Regions from separate parts of the Homo sapiens genome. Here regions 1 and 2 are each linked to region 3. Evidence: fine-mapped expression QTL. A gene starts in region 3. Each other region holds a variant in brackets. All regions are shown on one strand. Distances are from middle to middle. Region 1 has its middle 60 kb from the start of NAMPT-AS1. Region 2 has its middle 30 kb from the start of NAMPT-AS1. Region 3 holds the start of NAMPT (nicotinamide phosphoribosyltransferase).

Region 1 (8,188 bases), 59 kb before region 3:
CCTGAAAACTCTTGTCAAGGCAGTAAGCTGGGGCAATGATAGGCTATTTCATTTGTTTACCATCTCACTGTATTTTATTGTCTGATACCCAATGCCTTAATATTCATATTTTTTTCTTATTTTTTAGTTGTTTCAGGCAAGAGGATATATTCAGTCCTTGTTGCTCCATCTTGAAATAATTGGCTATCCTTATTTGTATTATTATTTTAGTAATTAATTTATGAGTGCAATATAATCCTTAACTTTACCATTTACATTTAATAATGTACTACTCAAGTAAATTAGAAAAACCTGGAAGCCATTGGTTCCATAAGCCCTTCATGATTCATGTTATAATTATTATATCTGTTACATCTATGTTTGTTATAAATCATAGAAGATACTGTTATAGTTTCTCTTTGAAGAGTTATGTGAGTCACATAAAGAAGTTAAGAGGAAAAATCAAAGACAAAAATTATTTTGTATTTATAATTTTTTATGTTATTTCTTCTTTTTATGGAGATACTAATATCATCTGGTATCATTTACCTTTAGCCTGAGGAACTTCCTTGGCCATTTCTTTTAGTGCAGGTCTGCTTGTAATGAATACTTCTAGGCTTCTTTCATCAGAAAATATCTTTATTTTGCCTTTGTTCTTGAAGAATATTTTATCTGGATATAGAATCTGGGTTGATGTTTTTTTTTTTTCTTTCAGCACCTTAAAGATATTTTACCACTCAGTTCTCCGTGGTTTATGATGAAAACTCAGCTGTTAATTAAATAATCGTTCTATTATATATGGTGTTTTCTGTTGATAGTCTGAAGACTTTTCTCAATCTTTGGCTTTAAACAGTTGGACCATGATGTACCTTGATGTGGGATTGCTTATGTTTCTTTTACCTGATGTCCTTTGAGCATATTTATTTGTAAATTTCTGTCTTATCAAATTTGGGAGATTTGGGGGGCCATTTTTAATCATCTTTTTTCTATTTTTTTAATCTCTTCTCCTAGGACTCCAATTACACATATATTGGAACATTTAATATTTTTGTACCAAGTCCCTGCACTCTGTAGGTTTTTTTCCAATTTTTTTTCTCCCTGTTTGTCACATGGAACAATTACTATTTATCTATTTTTCACTTCACTTACTCCTGCCTCTGTCACTTCCACTCAGCTGTTCTCTTCAGTGATTGTTTTAGATCAGATATTACATTTTTTAGTCCTGGAATTTCAATTTAGTTTTGTCTGCTTTTCTCTGTTGAATTTTCAATTTTTCTTTATTTATTGAGCTCATATTTTGTTTTGTTTCATTGAATATCATTATAATAGCTGTTTAAAAATCCTTGTCTGTTGTATCTAACATCTTATCTGAGGGTCTCAATTGATCTTCTTTTCTTGATACATTCCATTTTTCTTGGTTCTTTTTTGTTGGGAAATTTTGGATTTACCCTGGACTTTATGAATATCAAGCTGTGCAGATTATTGATTTTATTGCTTCTCTAACAAGTGGTTTTCTTTGGCTTATGCAACTTTGTTTCTTGCATCTTAACTCTAGTCTCAGTTCAGATCATTTGTCTTTAGTTGAACTGCCTTTGGTCTGTTTCATGCATATGTCATTCAGGAATCAGTCAGAGAAATCATTAGACAAAATTTTGGGGATTTGCTCTCTGTTTCTTTCTCTTTGGGAATTCTCCAACTCTCTCCATCAGCCATGGATTCCCCTACCAGAGAGATGGTGGGTTTTCTACTGATGCTTCTACCACACTGCCACTGTGCACACTCAGTGGGTTGCACTGAGACCAAGGCTAGAAGCCACAGACACAGGGCACTTACTTCATACTGCTTCCTCTTCCAAATATTTATTCTTTGCCAATGTCTTTCTGCTTCTGTTCTCTCTCTAGTGCCTTCAAGTAGTTGCTTTTTGCTTTATGTTTAGGTTTTATAGTTGTTTTACTGCAAGGGAATTTTTCACAAGGGTCTTATTCCATCATCACTTGAATCGGAAGTCCCTCTCAGTTACCTTTTAAATTCAAGAATCTTGTCACTCAAAGTCAAAACATTTTCTCCAGGGCCTTGCAGAGACTTGTTCACATAATGAAAAATGTCCGCTGAGAAGGCAACTTTTTGTAGCCATTGTTCATCAAAACACTTAACGAAACTTGCCCAGTATGATATTGAAAGTACTTTTGAATTTCATCTTTTAGCTCAAACACCCTGTTGAAAATGCTTCCTCTGCTGAGCCACCAAATTTCTGTGTATAGCAGGATATTTCTGTGGCCTTTATCGACACCTTTTCAGTTTTAAAAGTATTCTCAAGTTAGCCTTTATATAACAAAGATAGCCATTTTGTAATATTATCTAAAACTTTCATTTCATCTCCAAGAATGTTTGACATTCTCTTTGAAGAAGCCAATGTGTTGTGAAAATGTGAGAAACTTTTTTCATTTAATAAGATGCAAAAGCTCTCATAGAACCAAATTTGACAGAGCACTATCAGTGTTCATGTCAATGTAGTTCTTAGACCTTTTGTTTATAGATATGAAGGCCAAACATTAATTATATCTTGGCCTTTCCTTGTTATGGGCCACTCTTTGTTTTCTTGAATTTCACAATTACTTGCAAATCTTACAAATGCTAAGTATGACATTTATTGGTGAAATCCCCTGACTCATCAACCTAGAAAAGGAAGCTGCGGTTTTTCAGGGTATGTCACAAAACCTCTTCAAAGTTGTGTGACGTGTCATCAATACTTCACCATATGACACTGTTTGAGGCTGTGGAACCTTTTCAGTTTCTTGTAGTGCATCTTTTCCTAGCCTTTGATTCACAGTAATTTTACATGATCACATTGTTAGCCTTACCAACTGTGTGACTTTTCCTGTTTAAGACAGTAAGTTCTGCTACTAAATAACTTGCTCCCTGGTCCTTTTCACTGAATGTACCTGTTTCTTGTTTGTTTGTGTGTTTGTGTGTTTTTAACAAGAGTTACTGTTTGTTTTAAGATTCTAATAGCTGCTTAAAGTAATCAGCATCTTTACTTCTCGAATACCTATGACTTATATTTAAGGGTTTTTGTTTTGTTTGGGTTTTCTTTTTTTTTTTTTATTGGAGCCATTCCCACATCTCTAAGTTGTTTGACATAGCAGGGATTGGCAAATGACAGCCCATGGGCCGAACCTCACCAGAGGCCTGCTTTGGTACAGCCCTCAGGGCTAAGATTGGCTTTTACATTTTTAAAGCATTTAAACAAGCAGACAAAGACAAAGAAGAATATGTGACAGAGACTACATGTGATCTGAAAAACCTAAAATATTTGCCACCTGCCTCTTTACAGAAAAATCTTGCTGGCCTCCTCACATGGATGATTCTCAATAAAATAAGAAAATTTGGATAATCAGCCTATAGAAGCTCCTTGGTAAGGGTCTTTCATCATAAAGATGGACTTTTTCTGTGTCCTTTGTTCCAATCACACAGGAAAATGACTCAGAAGGTTATAATTCATCATCACTACCCTTATCAGGGTTATCCCCAGGCCTAAAATTTTCCTCTTCCATCTCACATCTCACCTTCAAAAATTACCACATTGGGTTATCAAACATGTTTATAAAATACAAACATGAGTTAAGTGTAAAACATAAGAGCATAGTAAAATTTAAAAATCCCCCCAAACTCATCAATCACTGGAGAAATCACTTTTAGTCTTTTTCAACCTATGTTTTGCCATGTTTGTAACCACAACAAAACTGGGGGCAGGAGGTGGGGCAGGGTGCAGCTGAGCCTTTAGAATGAAAATTAAATTTCCCCTCATTTTTAGTTATACTAGCAAAGCTTGTTTG[G/T]TCCTGTGAGTCATCCTGTAGTGCATAAGGGGAGTTTAGGGGAAATAGTTAGAGAAGGAAAAACTCATGTCATCCATTTACCACCCCTCTCGTCTGTGCAATATAGCACTCATCAGTTACCAGTAACCTCCCATAGCTTGCATCATAAACCAAACTGGGCACAAACAAATACAATCCTATTGCACACTGCCACAATGGGGCTGAAAGACCCCGAATGAAATTGCTGACATGTCTGCTTAGCCACTATCTATCCTCAAAGTATGCAAACTTCGAAAGTTGATGTCTAGGTTTTAAATCAAAATCTCTTACAAACCCCTAGTGATGACATATTGAACTTTAAGGTTTTGTGGAAACCAAATTGAGAAACATTGGACCAGAGTCTCTGTATTCCAAAAGATTATCTTTCATTTGTATAATCTAAAACTCCCTTAAGTCTTATTCTTCTCCAAAACTCAAAGATCTACCCTTCTTCAAAGATAAATTTAATAATCACTGGCAGAATTAAAACAGATTGTTCTCACTCTCAGCCATCAATATTTTGGAAAACATCAAGTGCGGAAGTAAGCATCGTGACTCTGTTACAGTAACAGCTCAAATATCCGGAAGAATGTGGTAAGTCTATAAACACGTTACCACTAAAGTGCTCTCAGAGTCCATGGGGAAGTGAGATCACTAGATAGAGGAAATCAGGAAGGGTGTCATAAGTGAGGTAGCACTTACCACAGATCTCAGGGAAGGGAAGCACTTCTATGGTCAACATGACAGGAAAACATTTAGAATGCAGAGAATACAATTTCTAAAAGCATGGAGGCAGAAATTTATGGAGCAGGTTAGAACAATAGTATGTGGTCCCATTTGGCTAAAGTATAGGTGACATGTAGCGGGGAAGGGAAAGGAATATTGTATTAATAAAGTGCCATGAAGCCTGAATGACAGCCGGAAGGCCTACAATGCTAAGATAAGGAGTTTGATTAAGTCGTGAGAGCTATTGGAGGTTTCTGAGCAGTAAGATGACATAACCTCATGAAAAGTATGAGATATGATTAATATAAACCCATCCCATATTGTGCCCCTTTGTAAGCTACCTGTACGGAAGAATGTGAATTGTTTCTGGCAGGATTTTTGTTGAATATATACCTTTTCTTTCATTTTCTCCAGTGAGCAGCAACACACCCTTGTAAGACAGCTGGTAGGGTTAGGAGTATTGCCTATGTCAGTGGAACGAGTTCCTCTGTCTCAGAACAGATGGAAAGCATCACAGAAGTAGGAACAGAATGAGGCCCACAGATGGCAGAGTGGTCAGGATTTGTCAAATTCTCATTAATGTATCAAACCCCCACATGGAAAAGCATAGATCCTTGTATAATCTTTGTGTGGTACTTCTGTCTGAAGAAACCCTATAAAAGCAAAAAATTACTCTCCCATGACATTACAGAAGGGAGCTGTTTGTAAAAGCGTTGGTTTCTTCAGAGGTTGGGGTCCACTGATGCCTGGCTCTAGCTTTCTCCTGCCAAGCTGCCTAATTTTGCAATTCCAGCTCAGGCTCAAATAAAACCATGCTCCAGGGTTGCCATCTTGAAGGAAGGAGACTTCATTCTGGAATCTTTGTGATGACATAGGTAAAGCACTAGAAAGGGTAGTAGATCCATGAAGAGACCAGAAGGATAAGTACAAGAAGACAGATATGCTTTACAAATAAGGACTCTCCAGGATGAGATACAGACTGTGAGCAGGCAGATAGAACATTACATAAACGTGAAGGAGATCATGGGATGGCCACCAACTCCTAAAGTGTTAGGATGAAGTGGACAGCTCTGAAAGCTTAAAAACTGCTAAAATTGATTAATTTTAAAAACTGTTGGTTTTACATTCTGTATGACTCAATATATGTAGGAATCTTGAGAAATATCAAGAAAACACAATGAAGAGATTAAGAGTAGAGAGGTTAGGAGCCACTGTGTCCTTGCCAAACAGGCAGAGTAGGAAAACAGGAAAATATTGAGGGAGGAATATAGGCATATACTACCCTGTCACAGTCAGGCTCTAGGATGCCTGCATGATCTTCACCTCTTACTATTCGTGATCATCTGAAGTCTCCTCCTACATTGAATCAGAGGTGGTCTGTGCAACCACTTGATGGAGAAGACCATGTTTAACTTCTGAGGATAGGTCATAAAAGTCACCACAGCTGTTGCTTTGTTCTGCTGGACCACTCTTTCTGGGAAGCCAGCTACCATACTGGAGGGAAGCTCAAGCAGCCCATTGGAGAAGAACCCATGAGAAATAGTGAAAGCCTCCCACCAATAGCAAGCACCAACTTGCCAGCCATGTGACTAAGCCAATTTTGAAGCCACTCCACCTCCAATCGAGCTTGCAAATTGTTACCACTGGAGGGTGTCCAGATTCTTAGTGTCTTGAACAAAGAATTGGACAAAATACACAAACAAAGCAAGGAAACAATGAAGCAACAAAAGCAGAGATTTTTTTAAAATGAAAGTACACTCCACAGGGTGGGAGCAGGAGCAAGCATAGGGTCTCAACAGTGCGATTACAGAATTTTCTGGGGCTTAAATACCCTCTAGAGATTTTCACTGGTTACTTGGTGTAAACCCTATGTAAATGAAGAGGATGAATTCAAGTTACAAAGTCATTTACTAGGTGTATGCCCTATGTAAATGAAGAGGATATTTCCTGTCATCACTGAAGTGTTTTCCTTTGATTTAGTTCTAATAAGTCCTTAGGTTCCCTGCCTCCAGGCCCTATTCTCCTGTCTTATTTCCCCCCAAAAGATGTGATCCCCATAAATCTTTATGGGAGGCAGAGGGACTGACGGTCTTTCTTCTGTAACTGCTTCATGCTGGCTCAGGGTGTAGTCCCTACCCATTGTGGATCACAGAACTCTTGTCCTGCTCTGTCTAATGGAGACAGGGTAGCTCCTTAATGACCAGGGGTGGTGTCTTCACCTGGAACTGACTGGAACCTTTGTCACATGATCATCTGAAGCTTGATGGTCTCTAGGAGAGAGGAAATGAATTTGGTTAAAAGATTTAATGGGAACTTCAGGAGGTAGATACTTATGCTCTCAGGAATGTTTGTTATAGAGATTTACAGGAGAAAAACAAAACCTCTTCTCTTCTAGGATCCATGTGTAATATGGTTTGACTGTGTCCCCACCCAAATCACATCTTGAATTCCCATGTGTTGTGGGAAGGACCCAGTGGGAGGTAATTGAATCATGGGGGCAGGTCTTTGTTGTGCTCTTCTTGTGATAGTAAGTCTCATGAAATCTGATAGTTTTATAAGGGGGAGTTTCCCTGCACAAGCTCTCACTTTGCCTGCTGCCATCCATGTAAGACATGACTTGCTCCTCCTTGCCTTCCACTATGACTGTGAGCCCTCCCCAGCCACGTGGAACTGTAAGTCCATTAAACCTCTCCGTCTTTTGTAAATTGCCCAATCTTGAGTATGTCTTTATCAGCAGTGTAAGAACAGACTAATATAGTAAATTGGTACCAGGAGTGGGGCACTGCTGAAAAGATACGTGAAGATGTGGAAGCAACTTTGGAACTGTGTAACAGGCAGAGGTTGAAACAGTTTGGAGGGCTCAGGAAAAGACAGGAAAATGTGGGAAAGTTTGGAACTTCCTAGAGACTTGTTGAATGACCTTGCCCATAATGCTGATAGTGATATGGACAAAAAAGCTCAGGTTGAGGTGGTTTCAGATGGAAATTAGGAACTTGTTGGGAACTGGAGGAAAGGTGACTCTAGCTATGTTTTAGCAAATAGACTGGTGGCATTTTGCCCCTGCTGTAGAGATTGGTGGAACTTTGAACTTCAGAGAGATGATTTAGAGTATCTGGCAGAAGAAATTTCTAAGCAACAAAGCATTCAAGAGGTCACTTGGGTGCTGTTAAATGCATTAAGTTTTATAAGGGAAGCAGAGCATAAGAGTTAAGAAAATTTGCAGCCTGAAAATGCAATAGACAAGAAAATCCAATTTCTCTGAGAAATTCAAGCCGGCTGCAGAAATTTGCATAAGTAACAAGGAGCCGAATGTTAATCCTCAAGACCCTGGGGAAAATGTCTCCAGGGCATGTCAGAGGTCTTCACAGCAGCCCCTCCCATCACAGGCATGGAGACCTAGGAGTAAAAAATCATTTCATGGGCCAAGCCCAGTGTCCCTGTGCTGTGTGCATCCTGGGGACTTGGTGCCCTGCATCCCAGCCACTCCAGCCATGGCTGAAAGGGGCCAACATAGAGCTCAGGCCATGGCTGCAGAAGGCATGCTTGCATGCAGCCATCTTGCTTGTTGAGCCTATAAGTTGGTGGTGTTGAGCCTATGAGTGCCCAGAAGTCAAGAACTGGGGTTTGGG
Region 2 (8,188 bases), 29 kb before region 3:
GTATTGCTTTTCTCCACTCAACTCCCTCTTTGATCTCTCCTCACTAGCATTTCCCTGGCTTGGCCAGATAATTTTTTCCAGTTCACACAGTCTCCTTAGAGTCTCTCAGCCCATTTGGGTCTCCAGCTCTATATCATATTTTTGCAGGATAGTCTCATGACAAAATTTTTATTTAATCTTTACAAATACCTCATAGTGTGTGGCCAATTGTATTTTCAAAAATGGCTATGCCAGTATATCCCAATCCATAAATTCCTGTAGTATGATGTTGACACTCTTCCATCAAAACGTGGGGTCCACGTTTGCTCCTCTCCAATCTGGGTGGGCCTGGGACTATGGTGTATGTGATTCTCCATGACTTCTGAGGGCAAGACAAAAAAGATGATAGAGCTTCTCCCCTGCTCTCCTCCCTTGGGACACGTGCCCTGGGGGCCCTCAGCTGACATGTAGGAAATCCAGCCACTCTGAAGCTGCCATACTGGAGAGAGCACATGGGCAGACTATGTAGAGAGAGACCCATGGAGCCCCAACTTCTCCAGTCCCAGCTGTTTGAGCTGTCCCAGCCCAGGCACCAGATGTAAGGGAGTAAACCTCCAGATGAGTCCAGCCCCAGCTTCCAGCCACAACTAACGCTGAATAGAGCAGAAATGAGCCACTCCAATCCCCACCCAGATTGCTGATTTGTGAGCAAAATAGATGTGTTCTTGTGTTAAACCATGAAGTTTTGGGTCCATTTGCTACAAGCCATAGTAACTGGAACAGCAAGTAATGTTACCTTTGGATTCATTTGGGTACAGGTAATTTCCAATACTTATTTAAGCTTGAAAGCAAAAGTCTCGGCTTATAACTGAAAGTCCAGGGCTCATGCTGTTGTGCCTTTAACAAGGGCCATAATGATGTCCCTAGGACCCAGGACCTTTGCATGTTTCCGCTCTCTCACAACAGCACTGGCCACACGCTCAGACTTCATGAGTTGGGCAGGAAGTCCGAGAACTCCAGACATTTGTCCTGTCAGATTCGAGCTCACCCACAGCAGCAGAGGGAAGTCCACTTTCACAATCAAACAAAGGCCATAAGATTAATCCTACTGGCTACATTTGATTTGGCCCCATCCCTAAACCTCGGAATGTGCTGATCATCCAGGCTACAGGCACCTACATGGAAAAGCAGGAAGGAATTCAAGTTCACCAAAGTACAGGAACTGACAGAAGGAGAAAGATGTTTCTCCCAAGGATATTTCTAGATTCTGGTACAAAAGAAGGATAAAAGGACACTAGCCAGACAAAAAACATACAAACAAAATACCCACATATCCCCAGACTATGTATGGGAAACAGTTCAACAGTTTTCCTCAACCATTGCCCTACCATTAGGTAAATAACTTTGTCATTTATTGCCCCACAATAAACTGAGTTAGTATTTGAACACGTGTTTGATGCAAAAGTTTATTTTCTTCACCCCAAACCACATGGAATAGCATTTCTACTCTTTACTTCTGATTTCTTATAATTCATACAGCATGCTGAGGATAGAAACTTTATGTGAAACCAGAGAGAAGAGGTAGTTTTCAATTCTACTCTGTTTAATGTACCTTTTTCCTTAAGCTTTCTCCAGCATTCTAGTTTAATATATATGAATATTTTGGCATCAGCCTGCTGTCACTAGTATTGGCTTAATATTCTACACAGAAAAATGTCTTCAGAACATTTTTATGGGACTTATTCTATATAAACATAACAGCAATTTAAAAAATTTTTGTAGCAGCTTTATTAAGATACGATTCAAATATGATATAATTTATCCATTTAAAGTATTCAATTCCGTGGGGTTCTTAGTGTATAAGCAGGGCTGTGTAACCATCAACATAATCAATTTTGAACATTTTCATCACCACAAAAAAGAAACCTTAGCATTGATTCCCCATTTCCTCTCTGCCTGCTCCCCACCACCAGCTCTATGTCTCTATGGCTTGCCTTATTCTGGGCATTTCATATAAATGGAATCATACAATAAGTTGTCCTTTGTGAGTGGCTTCTTTCACTTAGCATATGGTTTTCATGTTGTAGTATGTATCAGTACTTCATTTGTTTTTATTGCCAAATAATATTCCATTACATGGATATACCACATTTTAATTATCCATTCATCAGTTGGTATACATTGGAGTTCTTTCCACTTTCACAATGCTGCTAAGAATATTCATGTACAAGTTTTTGTTTAGACACATATTTTCATTTCTCTTGGGTATATACCTATGATAAGAGGTGCTGGATAACTATGTTTAGCCTTCTGAGGAACTGCCAGACTGTTTTCCATTTTACATTCCCACCACCAGGTTATGAGTGTTTCAATTTCTTTCCATCCTTGCCAAAACTTGTTAGTATCTGTCATTTTGATTATAGCTATGCCAGCCAGTGCTAGGTAGTGTGGTATCTCATTGTGGTTTCTATTTGTACTCCCCTGGTGGCTAATGATGCCAAACATCTTTTCATGTGCTATTGTTCACTTGTAAATCTCCTTTTGAGAAATATCTATTCAGATTATTTGCCCATTTTTAAATTGAGTTATTTGTCTTTTTATTATTGAGTTGTAAAAGTTGTTTATGCATTTAATTCCCTTATCAGACATGACTTGCAAATATTTTCTCGCATTCTTGGGTTGCCTTTTCACTTTCTTGATGGTGTCTTTTGAAGTACGAAAGTTTTTAATTTGTATTTTCTTTGAGACAGGGTCTCTCTCTGTCACCCAGGCTGGAGCGCAGCAGCATGATAATAGCTCACTGCAGCCTTGACCACGTGGGCTCAATTGATCCTCCCACCTCAGCCTCCTGAGTACCTGGGACTACAGGTACACACCACTACACCCAGCTAATTTTTAAATTTTTTTGTAGAGATGAGGTTTCTCCATGTTGCCCAGGCTTGTCTTGAACTCCTGGGCTCAAGTGATCCCCCTGCCTCGGAAAGTGTTGGAATTACAGGCATGAGCCACCACCTGGCTGAAAATTTTAAATTTTTATGAAATCTAATCCATTTTTTTCTTTTGTCATTTGTGCTTTTGGTGTCATAAATGTTTTAACCAAGTTCAAAAAGACTTATGCCTATGTTTTCTTCTAAGAGTATTATAGTTTTAGGCTCTTTGAGTTAGGTGTTTCATCCACTTTGAATTAATTTTTGTATATTGTGTGTGGTAAGAATCCAATTTCATTCTTTTGTTTGTGGCTATCCAGTTGTCCCAGCACCATTTGTTGAAAAGACTACAGTCTTCTGTCCCATTAAATAGTCTTAGCATCCTTGTAAAAAATCAGTTGACCACATGGTTTGTTTCTGGACTCTTAATTCTGTTCCACTGACCTATATGTCTGTTTTTATGCCAGTACCACACTGTCTTGATAACTTTAACTTTATAGTAAGTTTTAAAATCAGGAGGTACGAGTCTTTCAACTTCATTCATTTTTTTCAAGATTATTTTGGCTATTCTGGTTCCCTTGGATTTCCATGTGAATTTTAGATCAGCGTGTCGATTTCTTTATGGCTGTATGTTTGTTTTCATCCTCTTCCATCCACAAGTCTTATTCATAATGACATAGGCCATTTTTGCCTGAAACCTGTGGTTGCCTGTTTGATCTTATCCAGGATGTTTTCTCAGGTAAAATGATAGCTGAGTTCAAATCAACATCTTGTTGAAATTCAGCTCATCAATTTCATAATCTGAATCATTACGAGACCAATCAGTAAATGTGTTTCTTTTTCTTCTATTTGTTGCGTCTGTTCATCAAATAAAAAATCAAGTTCTTCCTGTTCTTCTGGAGGATATAGTTGACTTGATACATCATCAGATACTGGTGTTGAGTCCTTCAATTTCACTGGAAATGGACAATGTCTCTTTTTTACTTTTATCCAAGGCTCTAGTCCAAGTCAGAGAAACTGGTAGACACATCTCTAGGCATTGCCTGAAGATTATTTGTTTCAGTATATTTCTTTGGACGCAGTGGACTTCCAATTCTTGGAGAATTTAGGGCAGACTCTGTATGCAAACCAAAGGCTATGTGAACTCAGAACAACATTTTGTGTGTGTGTTTTTCACTTGAAATTTAAGTAAGTATGCAGAAATGCAGTATGAAGAATTACTATTGATTGTATTCAGTTAATGCAAAGTAATTGTAATTTTTGCCATTTTTTTAATAACAAAAACCGCAATTACATTTGCACCAACTTAATAATAGAATGAATCTTGGCTCAACCCTACATGAATTTCCTGGTAGCAAATGGAAAAGAGGCATATGATCCCTTTCATGCACCACTCACATCTTGCCCCCTAAAGCACTCCGCTCACTGCTTGCTAAACTGATGGCTCATTCATCAACTGGCAGAATCCTGCCTTAAACACATGTATCTATGTCTTACCCAGGAAGTAGGAGCTTCTGGAGTAGAGGATCCCAATCAGTGGTAGGCTGGAAGAGAGAAGGTCTCAGCAGGAAAATCACATGGAGCTTTGTCAAAAAAACCTTGTGTCTGCTGTTCACCCCCTATACCACCCTATTCCCAGGATATCAGAGTAGATGTAAAAGAAATGGGAAGATCAGACATATGGGAAAATTCTCCAGGTCAATCTGATGCCCATTATTCTATAATCACCCAGGAAGAAACAAGGGTACCATAAGCCAATAGAAGCCAAGCCTCCATTCTTGGGAGAAGAGGAGATTGACAGAAAGGGGATCAGGTTTAAAATTAACACTTTCTTTAATTTGAAGCATACAGAAAACGAGAAGCAGAAATGGGCTATTCAGTCTTGCCAACCAAATGGGCAGAAGCAATTAAAGGACAAGGAGAGTGGAATAAAAATGTTTTTTAAAAAGACAAACTTCTATCAAAGACAATTGATAACAACAAAAAAAAAATAAGAAAAGGAGAGAGAGAAAGGAGAAAGTTAAGAGCTTGTTCAGGGAAGTTAGAGTCAGGATAC[G/A]GAAACTTACATAAGAGACTACTGACTCTAAGGTGGAAGTACAGACACAGGACCAGAAAGAACCCTTGGAGAATGACTTCAGTTTTATTTTTGAGGAAGTGAACAAAGATTTGAGAAAAACCAGAAAGAAGAATGGAGAAGTAAGTTTAAGGAACTGTATAAGAGAAAAGCTGGAGAAAGAGAAATTGAAAGAAAAGAACAGCATAAAATGTACATAATAAAGGCACTTTCAATGTAAGACATCCTATTTCCGTGTATACTAGGCCAACCTATCTTTATTGGGGGTTGAACAAAGTTAGGTTTATAAACATTAGAGCTGTGCCTCACAGAGAGAATAAGAATCGAATATAAAAAGCATTCAATTAATTAATCACTAAAGACCCTGTTCAGAATTTCAAGAATCTACTGGTTAAACTGTTTTAAATGGGGGGCTGTAAGGGATTTGTCAATATTTCCCTAAAGGAAGTGACTAAACAGGAAGAAAATACAACGTGGACTAAAGGTACTTCTGAATTTTTGTGTGCACTTTGTGTACTTTCAACTCTGATAAAATCATGCTTACTGTGTTTTCAATTGTTTTATTAGGCACTATTTGTAAAACCTGAAATTTTTCTTTTCCAGCTCCACAGATGTTGTATAATTTAATTAACCAACATTAAATGGTTTTCATGACATACTTTGTTATTTACATCATTATTTTTCTTTCTTATTGACATTCCTGTGAACCAGCTCATCACAGTATTGAGTGGACCACATGGAAACCACAGAGACACTAGTGTAGAGCGGCTGGAGTCAATGGTTCCAGTTTCAAACCCCACTCCACTGCTTGCTAGACATGTAATTCAGCACAAGGTATCTAATCTCTCTGTTCTTGTGAAGTAATCCCCACCTCAAAGGATTGGTATAAAGAGTAAATTATGAAATTTTTGTAAAATGTTTGTCACAATGCCTAGTACATAGAAAATGCCCAATAAACAGCGGTTGTTGCTCTTTTTATTATTTAGAATAACTTGTCCTAAAAACATAAAATGCCCGTGTTCAAGAGAAAAGAAAGGAAATAAACAGTAGCATTAGGAAGAAGGAACAGACTTAGTCTCTAAATTTTTAAGTGGGGATGGTATAAACACCAGGCAAAGTGACTGTGCATGTTAAATGGAACAGCATATGTAAACTACCCAGCACAATGCTTGGAACATGACTGGTCGACATACTTAATGAATGTCTGTTTCCTTCTCCCACCCTATCTTTTTTCAAATCTTCTTAAAACTTGAATTGCATAGCACTGCAAGGCTGTGGCAACTATTCATCTATTTGGGCTTTTTCAAGAATATTTCCATGTAAACCACTTAGAAGATGCACAGAGGGGACCTTACACTACCAATTAAGAACTTTTTTAAAAATCTAATTTAAATTTATGTTGTTTATATAAACACAAACTCTATCTTGGTATGAACAGCAAATTAGGTAATTTTTGTAAAATGAAAACTTTCTAGCAATAATTTTTAAAATGGCTTTATCCTTAAAATTTCTAACCCTTGGCTGGTGTTCCCAAGAAGGAAGTATAGTAATTCAGTATTTATTATGAAATCAAGTTCTTCATCCTTACCATATTCGGAACCATGTTTTTACTTTAATGCTTACACATAGCCTTGTAAATATTTAATTTTGCACATACCTAACTCTGTAAATACATTTCTTTCCAAGTAGTTTCAGATGACACTTTTACCACTAACATTTTATACAATTTCCTAGAAACTCCTGCATTAATTCCACCTATTTTTATCAGCTTCTCAAAATATATTTATTTACTTCTATAATTTCCTACAAATACAGAATTTTGAGCTGAAGAGGAACACTGACATCATTTGGTTCAAATCTCTCATTTTACGAAAAGGAAATAAATTCACTAACTTCCAGTTATTGTAACCAAGTTATGCCCTAAGAATGGACAGAACGAATAGCCAGTTACAAGGTAAGATTTTAGCCTCAGGCTCATACCAGCTGATGACGAATCTCTCCCCTGCCATTGTATCACAGTGCCTAAACCTCCCACCCTTAGCTATTATATCCTATTAAGGCATTAAAGTTCCCCATCAAAACTTGAACTCTAATCAGCCATTGATACTGATGCATTGATTTAAAGAAAAAATGTACAAATCATACAGCAACCTATTAGAAAGAGATATAGAATAGGAGTTTTGAAGGATGCGGAAGGAACCAGGAAAAGTTTGATTTATTCAGCCAACATTTGTAGAATTTATATAGCCTGCCATGCACTGTACTGAGATACCAAAAGGAAGCATGGTCTCACCTTCAAGGCACATCTAACTAGAAAGCATTCTTGTAAAATAACCCTGTGCAATGAGATGAGGACTACTATAGAGGCATGTACAGGTTAATGAGGGTGCAGAGGGTAGAGATTTGTCCCATCGTATAAGGCAGAAAAAGAACCGAAAGGGCGATATTTAAGCTTGGCCCAGAGGATATGTGGCATTTATCGAGTGCCAGTATATGGACTGTGAAGCCAGATTGAGTGGGTTTGAAACCTACCACCTCTTACTGACTTTAAACAAGTATGTAGCCTTTCTGTACCTCAATTTTATCACCTGTAAAATTAGGATAATAGAATCTACCTTGTATAACTACCAAGTGTAAGTTACATATAACTTGTATAAGTAATATATAAATTAATAAATGTAAAGCACTGAGAAAATGCTAGCTATTATTGTGGTTTCACCTATTGGTAAAATAGGATTAAGGGTCATAGACTGGGCCACAACACCAGAGTGGTGCTGGGTAGAAATGGGCTCTTTAATTGCTTTAAATTGAGAAAGAGAATGGTGCTCTATCAGCAACCAGTAGTGGAGTCTGGGCACACCCACACTGGGCTAAGAAGGGAGAATGTATGACAGCCATAACCATACCAAAGTCCCACAGGCAAATTGTATGCATTTAATGTGAGGACTTATCCTTACTAGAATGGACCTTCAGATCAAATATAAATAATTGAAAAAAACATCCTTTGGGTAGCATTGGTATGTTTCCAAACAAAAAGACCTTGGAAGCTTGATATGGGGGAGAAGCCAGAAAGAAAGGGGAAAATGACGCAGAATGGGGAGCCTGGAAATCTGTGTTGCCTACTTCACAACTGAGCCACTAATTTAAATGTGCACTTGAAAGCAGGGTTAGAAGAAGCTGATGTGTGCAGCGTGGCTACCCCTGGGCT
Region 3 (8,188 bases):
TTCAGACTCCTTTTGGCATCTGAAAACATTCAGCAACTTCAAGAACTGTCCTTCCTTGGAGGAGGGCAAAAATGGTGCTCATCCCCTATCACGTAAAGCAACATGGTAACAACACAAGGTAAGAATGGAAACAGAGGAAACAAAATGGGAGAAGAGGGGAAAATATTTAAAATGATTACAAGAAAATCAGTCTTTTTTAGTTCAGTTTTATTAAGATCTAATTTATATGCTATTCACCAACTTTAAGCTTAGAATTCAGTGAATTTTGACAAATGTATACAGTCGTATAACCACATATATCATTCTCATCACCCCAAGAAGTTTCCTCAGACCTGCTTGCAGTCATTCTGCTTCTCATAATCCCAGTCTCTGACAACCACTGATCTGCTCTCTTTCATTATAACTTTGCCCTTTCCAGAATTTCAAATAAATGGAATCAGACATATAGCCTTTCATGTTCAGCTTCCTCAAGAAAACCAGTCTTATATGGAGGATGTGAAAACAGCATATAGGTTAGGGAAAGGTAAGAAAAAGAAATAGAAAGTTCACCAGTCTGAGTGCCCACCTCCTTCAGCTTCATCCTAAGTAATAATACCCCTCCCACAAAAAATCAGGTTTTATGTGCTAGTTACATTTTTAAATACTCATTAGAGGCCAAAGGCAGTGGCTTATGCCTGTAATCCTAGCATTTTGGGAGGCCAAGGTGGGCAGATCACTTGAGGTCAAGAGTTCAAGACCAGCCTGGCCAGCATGGTGAAACCCCTTCTCTACTAAAAATATAAAAGTTAGCCAAGCATAGTGGTACATGCCTGTAGTCCCAGCTACTCAAGAGACTGAGGCACGAGAATCACTTGAACCTGAGAAGTAGAGGTTGCAGTGAGCTGAGATCGGACCACAGCACTCCAGCCTGGGTGATAGAGCGAGACTCCATCTCAAAAAACAAACAAAACAAAACTCATTTAAGATAAGTACATAATTATTAAAGACAAAAACATGTATCTTAGTACCATTGATAGTTATTTCATGTACATCAATGATAAGCAGACCTCACTTAGGAAAACACTGATTTCAAAGCTCTTGACATTCCTATATACTTCAAACGGTCTTATTCTCTCAGTCATTGATATGGGCTAGCAACTCTTAAATTTGGGCCATTAGCAAAATTTGTAAGTAATGATGACATTGGAATCCCCACATGTGGCATCATAATGTGCATGTTTACCTTACTTTTAAAGGTGAATTTAAACCTTTTATTTTTGTTTATCTTTATTTCCCATTGAATTTGGTTGGAATTAGAAAAATGTATGCTTGAATATAATGGAAAACAAAAACACAACTAATAGAGACGGGAAAATCGAGACTTGCCATGCAGCAAACATAGATTGCGATAGACGTCCTGTGTGAAATTTGAAGACAGTTTCAAGTCAGATAGATGATCGACTCAGCATTGCCGGTTAGGAGAGTGCAGCACAGTCAGACCACAAAGACACCATAGAAAGGGCATAATTACATTTTGCAATGGAATGTCTGTGGATAGTCTATATATGTGCACTCATTCTTACTGTGTGTGGATGACAGTTGCTCTATCATTTTTGTACATTTAGACGAGGACTCCATAGTTTCCTGTGCCTCTCTTTGTGTGATTGTACAGGCTTAGCCGACTGAGTCATTACAGAGTGTAACACTGATAAATCATTGAATCTGTGAAGACCGTGTCTTTCTGTGGATGAGGCCTTTCCCTAGGAAATTAAAACTCTGGGAGGTTCCCAAAGGGCCTTGGAAGTTTGAATAAGAAAAAAAGTCCAAGTTTAATTTTTAAAAGCTCTCTTTTTCACATTTGTCTTTGTGACAACTGTTGCTAATTGGCGAGTCTAGAGGAGATTATAAAGGGAGATGGATAAGACCATCGTCAGGGGTTGCAGGTAGGTGAGTTCCATACCTACTTCACCAGTGTTTTTTACTGAGGTCAAATCAGGTCAGATTGGAGTATCTGAGGCAACTTTGAAATATAAAGGTGCACCCGAGGCTGTCTGCAAGGGTGTGTGGCAACAGGAGTGGCACAGATACACTCACTTTGCCTGAACAAATATATGAGCCCTAGGTCTTTCATAGCACTCTGAGGGAGGGAGACAAGGAGCTGCATGCCCAATTGGCAGTGCCTGATTGCTATTTGGTAGGATGGTATAATAATCCAGGGCTTTGAATCAAGTGAGGGGGCCCATTTGAGTCTATGTGTTATTATTTGTCATGTTGTTGTGACCTATGAAAAACAGTTTCTCAGGTCCTCTACATGCTACAACCTCCCCGGGCTCAGGCAATCCTCCCACGTCAGTCTCCTTTCAGAGAAGCTGGGACTACAGGCACATGCCACCACGTCCAGCTAATTTTTGTATTTTTTGTAGAGATGGGTTTTCACCATGTTGCCCAGGCTGGTCTCAAAATCCTGGGCTCAAGTGATCAGCCCGCCTCAGCCTCCCAAAGTGCTGGGATTACAGGTGTGAGCCACCACGTCCAACCTTAATGCTAGCTGTTAAACTGTCTTTCAGGGGAGGCCATTTTAAAATGAAATCTTGGCTCTGTTTTCAGTGATAATTTCATAGTTCTAAACCCCAATTAATTCTGAATTGCTCCAGCTTAAGCATGTAGTTACATAGAGAATGTGCCTATTTCTATCTCAGGCAAATGGTGATTGTCCTATTGGTAACATGACTTCATTGTCATTTTTTTTCTCTGGAGACTACTGTGAGGATTCACATTACTAATACTTGTGCAGGCCTCACTCCTTAATTTAACAAGCAATGTCAATACAATATTTTTTCTTTGCACAGATATAAGACCTTTTTATTTTAAAACTGCAAATTCAACTCAAAGATTGCAAGATCAAATTTTGCATCTTAAAAAAATACTACCATAAACAAAGCCCACATTATAATCAGAATCCTACTTTCTTTTCTGCATAAAGCAGCATAGAACAACGGTCATTTATAGATACATGAATTCCAGGAAGCTAAACAAATAAGAATTTGTACTATAAGTAAAGTAGGTTATATAAATTTTAAATGAAGGAAAAAACACCAAATTAAGGACAAAAATTATCTTTTTCCTTCTTTGAATTGCACTCCTTGAAATAATATAAAAAAACTCCCAAAATCAAATATTAAAAAATAATTTGTTTAGGCCGGGCGCGGTGGCTCACGTCTGTAATCCCAGCACTTTGGGAGGCCGAGGCGGGAGGATCACGAGGTCAGGAGATCGAGACCATCCTGGCTAAGACGGTGAAACCCCATCTCTACTAAAAATACAAAAAATTAGCCGGGCGTGGTGGCGGGCGCCTGTAGTCCCAGCTGCTTGGGAGACTGAGGCAGGAGGATGGCGTGAACCAGGGAGGCGGAGCTTGCAGTGAGCCGAGATCCAGCCACTGCACTCCAGCCTGGGCGACAGAGCGAGACTCCGTCTCAAAATAGAAATAATAATTTGTTTAAATGCGTTTACAAATAATTTTCCCCGGTAAAACACAGGGAAGATCAACCAATAAATACATAAGCCCTCTTGTTTCAAACCTCGTTGCTGAAAATAATTGTAAGTGTACTAGTATTTACTACATTGGTGAGTGCCTGGTGATACCTTCCACTTCCATGATCTTTGCCCTGTATTGTATCTACGTGTAGATGAGGTGATTGTCAAAAATATATACTGACTTCAAGACATAGTGTTGACTGAGGTTGTCTTTATTAGAAGTCTCAGCCATGCCTCCAGTTTCGAGATGAATCTCAATTCACAAGTTCCACTATGAATCTCAATTCACAAGTTCCACTACCACCACCACCATCACTGCCCCCAGATAGAATGAGACTTCTAATAACTTGAAAGACAAGTCTATAAATATCCTGTAATCGTTTTCACTGTATCACTTTTTCCTGGCTACTTTTATCCGATAAAAACCTCAATTTATTTTTAAGCTATTAAACATGCGGACAAAGGGAATCTTAGTTTTATGCAAAAACGCAACCACGCATGAGAACTGCGCAAGTCTTTCTTGGAATGGTCTGTATTTGGGTGAAGTCATCAGACGTCATTACACTTCTTTATTTTGGGGTTGCCAACTCGTTTCCCAGGATTTAAAGACTATAACGATGATAAAAGTCAGTGTCGCACCCTGTCAAAGGCTTGGCCCGTTGCCTTTTCCTTCCCGGCAATACTCGGTTCAATTAGGTCTTGTCCCCTCATTATCTGTGAGGACTGAATTCCACCCCCGCTTTTCAACGCAGGCTCTTTGCTCGGGAAAAGTCAAACCATCTCTCAAAGGATCAAAGAGCTCAGCCATAGACAGAGCCGCCGGAGGAAAGCGGAGTCGCTGCATCAGATGAAAGGGGCCCCTCAGCCTCACTCCTCACCGCAGCTCCTGGGATCTTAAAGACAGGGTCAGGAGGATCAGGAGGGACAAGAGGGATGGAGGCGAAAGGCTGGATCCTTAATCCAGGCCGGAGACAAAGGTGAGTAACTGCGCGTGGTGGACGGGAAGATGGGCAGTAGGAGGCTCCTCGCCCCCTAGCCGGGTGGCGTGACTTCAGGAGGACCCAGAAAACCGGCCAGGACTGGGTAGGACGGAAGGTCCCAGGCGGGGCGGGCGAACCGGCTCCTCGTGGCACTGGCAAAGCTGGGAACGCCCCCTCCAGGCCCCGCCCTCCCGCGCCCGTGCCGGGAACTCGAACTTAGGTAAGCGCCCGGGTCACGCGCCGGGGCTGCCCCGCTGCCTCCAGCTTCCCAGAGCTGGCGTCTGGGAGGAAGAGCGCGTGCATCACGTCCTCCTCCCCGCCCCGCCTCCGCGCACTGCGCAGCGCGCTGCCGCGCCCCGCCCTTTCTCGGCCCCCGGAGGGTGACGGGGTGAAGGCGGGGGAACCGAGGTGGGGAGTCCGCCAGAGCTCCCAGACTGCGAGCACGCGAGCCGCCGCAGCCGTCACCCGCGCCGCGTCACGGCTCCCGGGCCCGCCCTCCTCTGACCCCTCCCCTCTCTCCGTTTCCCCCTCTCCCCCTCCTCCGCCGACCGAGCAGTGACTTAAGCAACGGAGCGCGGTGAAGCTCATTTTTCTCCTTCCTCGCAGCCGCGCCAGGGAGCTCGCGGCGCGCGGCCCCTGTCCTCCGGCCCGAGATGAATCCTGCGGCAGAAGCCGAGTTCAACATCCTCCTGGCCACCGACTCCTACAAGGTAAAGCTCGGGGCCCGGGCAGATGAGGAGGAGCGGGGCGCGCTGGGGACGAGCGCGCGGCAGGGGGGCGGGGGCGGCTGGGGCTGGGGTTGGGGCTGGGGCTGGGGCTAGGGTCGCGGCGCGGGGAGGCCCGGGGGAGGCGCGGGCGGCGGCGGCTGGGGCAGGTGAGGAGGCGCCGCAGTGGGCAGGAGGTGGCTTGAGGAGGATGGAGGGCTGGGCGGTGGAGGCGGGGCCTGGGGGCGCGCGGCGGCGGCGGCGCGGCGGGGGGCTGAGGCGGGCCCCAGCGGACTCCCGGGCGCCGGTGCTCGGGGCTCGGGGCTCGGGGCTTGGGCGTCGCCGGCGAGCGCATGCCCTTCCCTGAAGCGCGGCCTCTTGGCCTGGAGCTGGGACCAGTTAGGTAACGGCCCCGGGGACCCGCAGTGGAGAGTGAGCGGGGCTTTCCCCCGGGCCAGCCCGGCGCGCTCGCCCCTGGCTGGGCAGGTAAGTCTCCCGGGGCGCGAGGTGGGAGAAGTCCTGGCGCGGGCGCCGGAGCAGCCGCGGTCCTCTGCGGCTCCGGCGCGGAGGACACTCGCCTGGCCCCGGTAGCCGTAGTGGATTCCCCTGTCCCACTCCGCCGGGCTCCGTTTCAAACTCCTTGGCACCTAGTGATTGCTCGTGCTCCTTATCCCTGGGTGTAGAGGCCGCTCTGCTCTTATCTGCTTTAGGGTCATTACAGGATTTCTGTGAAAAGGAAAATGAAACACGAGGATTTAAAGGAACTGTAGTTTTAACCCTAGAGAACATGTGGAGAGGGAAATGGCACAGCGTTGCGTTCACATGCCCATTGAACACTTGTGTGGGTAGCTGCCACATTCAGTTGATATGAAGCACGCAGTAGTGAAGGGAAGAGGTAAAGTAAATTTTACTTGAGCAGCATAGTGGTTTGGAATACAGTGGTAAAACATAGTACTCTCATGTTTTTGTTTTGATTCTTTTTTTTTCCTTTGTTTTTAGCCCTCCTCCGATATTCCGAGAAAGTATTTTAGAGAATTCCATTTTACTTAAGTTTTGTCTGTTTTTTTCCAATCAGCTTAAAATGCTGTTTATGATATTTAGATAGGTTCTTGAAATCGAGCCAAGATCCATCAACAAGTTGTCTTTTAGATGCAAGTTTAAAGTATTGCAAAATCCGAACACTATCAAGTATGATTCTTGAATATTGTCAAGTATACGTGATAATACCTCAAGTATGGTCCTTTACTTGGTCCTAAAACCTCCTCTTGTGTTCTCTTGGTTCAATCATAGTGTTTTCAAAATTTTAAATAGTGATTTTAGAATAGCCTCATTGATAGTTTTGTAGAATTTTTTTCTTAACTAAATCTAAAATAACTGTCAGATTTTTTTTTTACATGTTAGCCAAATGTAAAGGGAGGTTGAATAGTCTAAATTTTAAAAACAGAAGAATGCAACTTCCTTTAGTTTGCAGTTCCTCTAACCATTATACATAAGGAATGTAAAATTACTTTAACATCAGTTTTCTGGGGTGCTTTTAGTTAGAATAGTGAATTATCTTAAAGGTTTCTAATCTAGTGAGCCATACTTAATTGCACTATTAGAATTTGCACCTATTTAATAAATTTTACTTCTGTCAACTTTCAAGTCAGACTGGTGTGTTTTATATCCTTTATAATATGAAACTTCAGAATATTTTCATCTTAGATTTTTCATTTTTTCCCCAAAAGTCACCTCTAGAGGGTTCAATCAAGTCGATATGTTTTATACCAGTGGCTTACCGCAGTATGCTAAAATAGATTGTGTATTCCACAGTCACATTTAAGTCTTAGGTTTCATTTCCCTTATGTTTTTAGGGGTCCTTATAACCTATTTTACATTTTTGTCTTTTTATCTTAGGAAAAAGGACAAAAATGATAATCTTGAGGTTAGAAGTAATGAAACTTATTTAGAAATTACACGAGAATGTTACATATCCTTATCAGTGCTTACAAACTATTGGCCAAAGTTGGGAACTCTAGTAGTTTCAGATGTGTTGATGAAGAGAGCAAAATATTGTTGATTTCTTCTTTCTAAAACTGAAGAAAGAATAATTGATTGCCTAAGCACTACGAAAGTTATTTTGCAAGTAGATGGTATGGTAGCAAGCACATGACAATGGGAGTTTTGTTTTGTCTTGTATCCTGTCAAGAGAGTCCAGAACTATTTGGACCAAAGGAGCATTTGAAGTATATACATTCACTTCTGTAAACTCATACTTTATTGTATATAGTAAGGAATTAAGGACACTGACGACTGTGGTTCCTCTATTTTCATCGTGGTTCTTGTTAGAAGTAAGGACACCGTTTAAACCGCATTATCCATTAGTTATGAAATGTGCTGTCCGGTGTAGGTTGCTTCTCAAAGGGTCATCTGTAAGCTGGTTATCTAGAATTCAGCATATTTTTAACCATTCATTTAATAAATGTTGGTGACCTATTGGGTATTATAAAAGAAGACAAAGATAAGTAGTATTTTGAAATCCAGGAGGGACAGAAGTTGATTTTATAGAAGTTTCAAAGAGCTGTGAAATTTATATATGGTGATTAGGAATTCAAGGCAGCTTTTTTTCAAAAAAAAAGAAAATTTTGCTTCCTCTAATGGCCAAGTAACAAATTTTTGTTGCTTGTCTTTCACTGCTTCTGAGCGGATGCTTCGGTATTGTCACGGTGGCTCCTGAGTCAACCTGAGCCTCATGAGTGGGGTACTGTTGCAGCTTGTACCCCAGAGACTGCCTATGCATTCATAAAGATATATGTGACATTGTACATATATTTCAATTTTTCCATTATGTTTTGTTATATAGGAAAAACTTGAGCACCATAAATAAAATATATAAATCATGAATATACTTCATAGGGAGATTAATTTAGGTCATTAATAATTGAGCTGGTGTTCTCGTTGTGAGTTAATGAAATCTGGTTTAAAGGTGTGGCAAAAGAGATACAAGTC

What was found. PIP is the estimated chance that this variant, and not a neighbour inherited with it, causes the effect.
Region 1: its variant is the best candidate, but not a certain one, in a credible set for the expression of NAMPT in whole blood (TOPMed, PIP 0.55).
Region 2: its variant is the best candidate, but not a certain one, in a credible set for the expression of NAMPT in whole blood (TOPMed, PIP 0.64).

Annotation. Positions count from the first base shown.
Region 1 is chr7:106,341,297-106,349,484 of GRCh38, reverse strand. No RefSeq gene overlaps it. Among named protein-coding and RNA genes, the nearest start is that of NAMPT-AS1, 60 kb to the right of the region's middle. RefSeq lists an enhancer at 2,149-3,348. The variant G/T (reference allele first, on the strand shown) is at 3,816.
Region 2 is chr7:106,311,079-106,319,266 of GRCh38, reverse strand. It overlaps the pseudogene LARP1BP2. Among named protein-coding and RNA genes, the nearest start is that of NAMPT-AS1, 30 kb to the right of the region's middle. RefSeq lists a silencer at 5,694-5,833. The variant G/A (reference allele first, on the strand shown) is at 4,963.
Region 3 is chr7:106,281,846-106,290,033 of GRCh38, reverse strand. It overlaps NAMPT (nicotinamide phosphoribosyltransferase), which reads left to right and starts at 5,051. Exons shown (of 11, transcript NM_005746.3): 1 at 5,051-5,206. The coding sequence starts at 5,150. NAMPT-AS1 (NAMPT antisense RNA 1) reads right to left here and starts at 4,788. Exons shown (of 1, transcript NR_186647.1): 1 at 3,708-4,788. RefSeq lists silencers at 4,552-5,091, 5,362-5,721.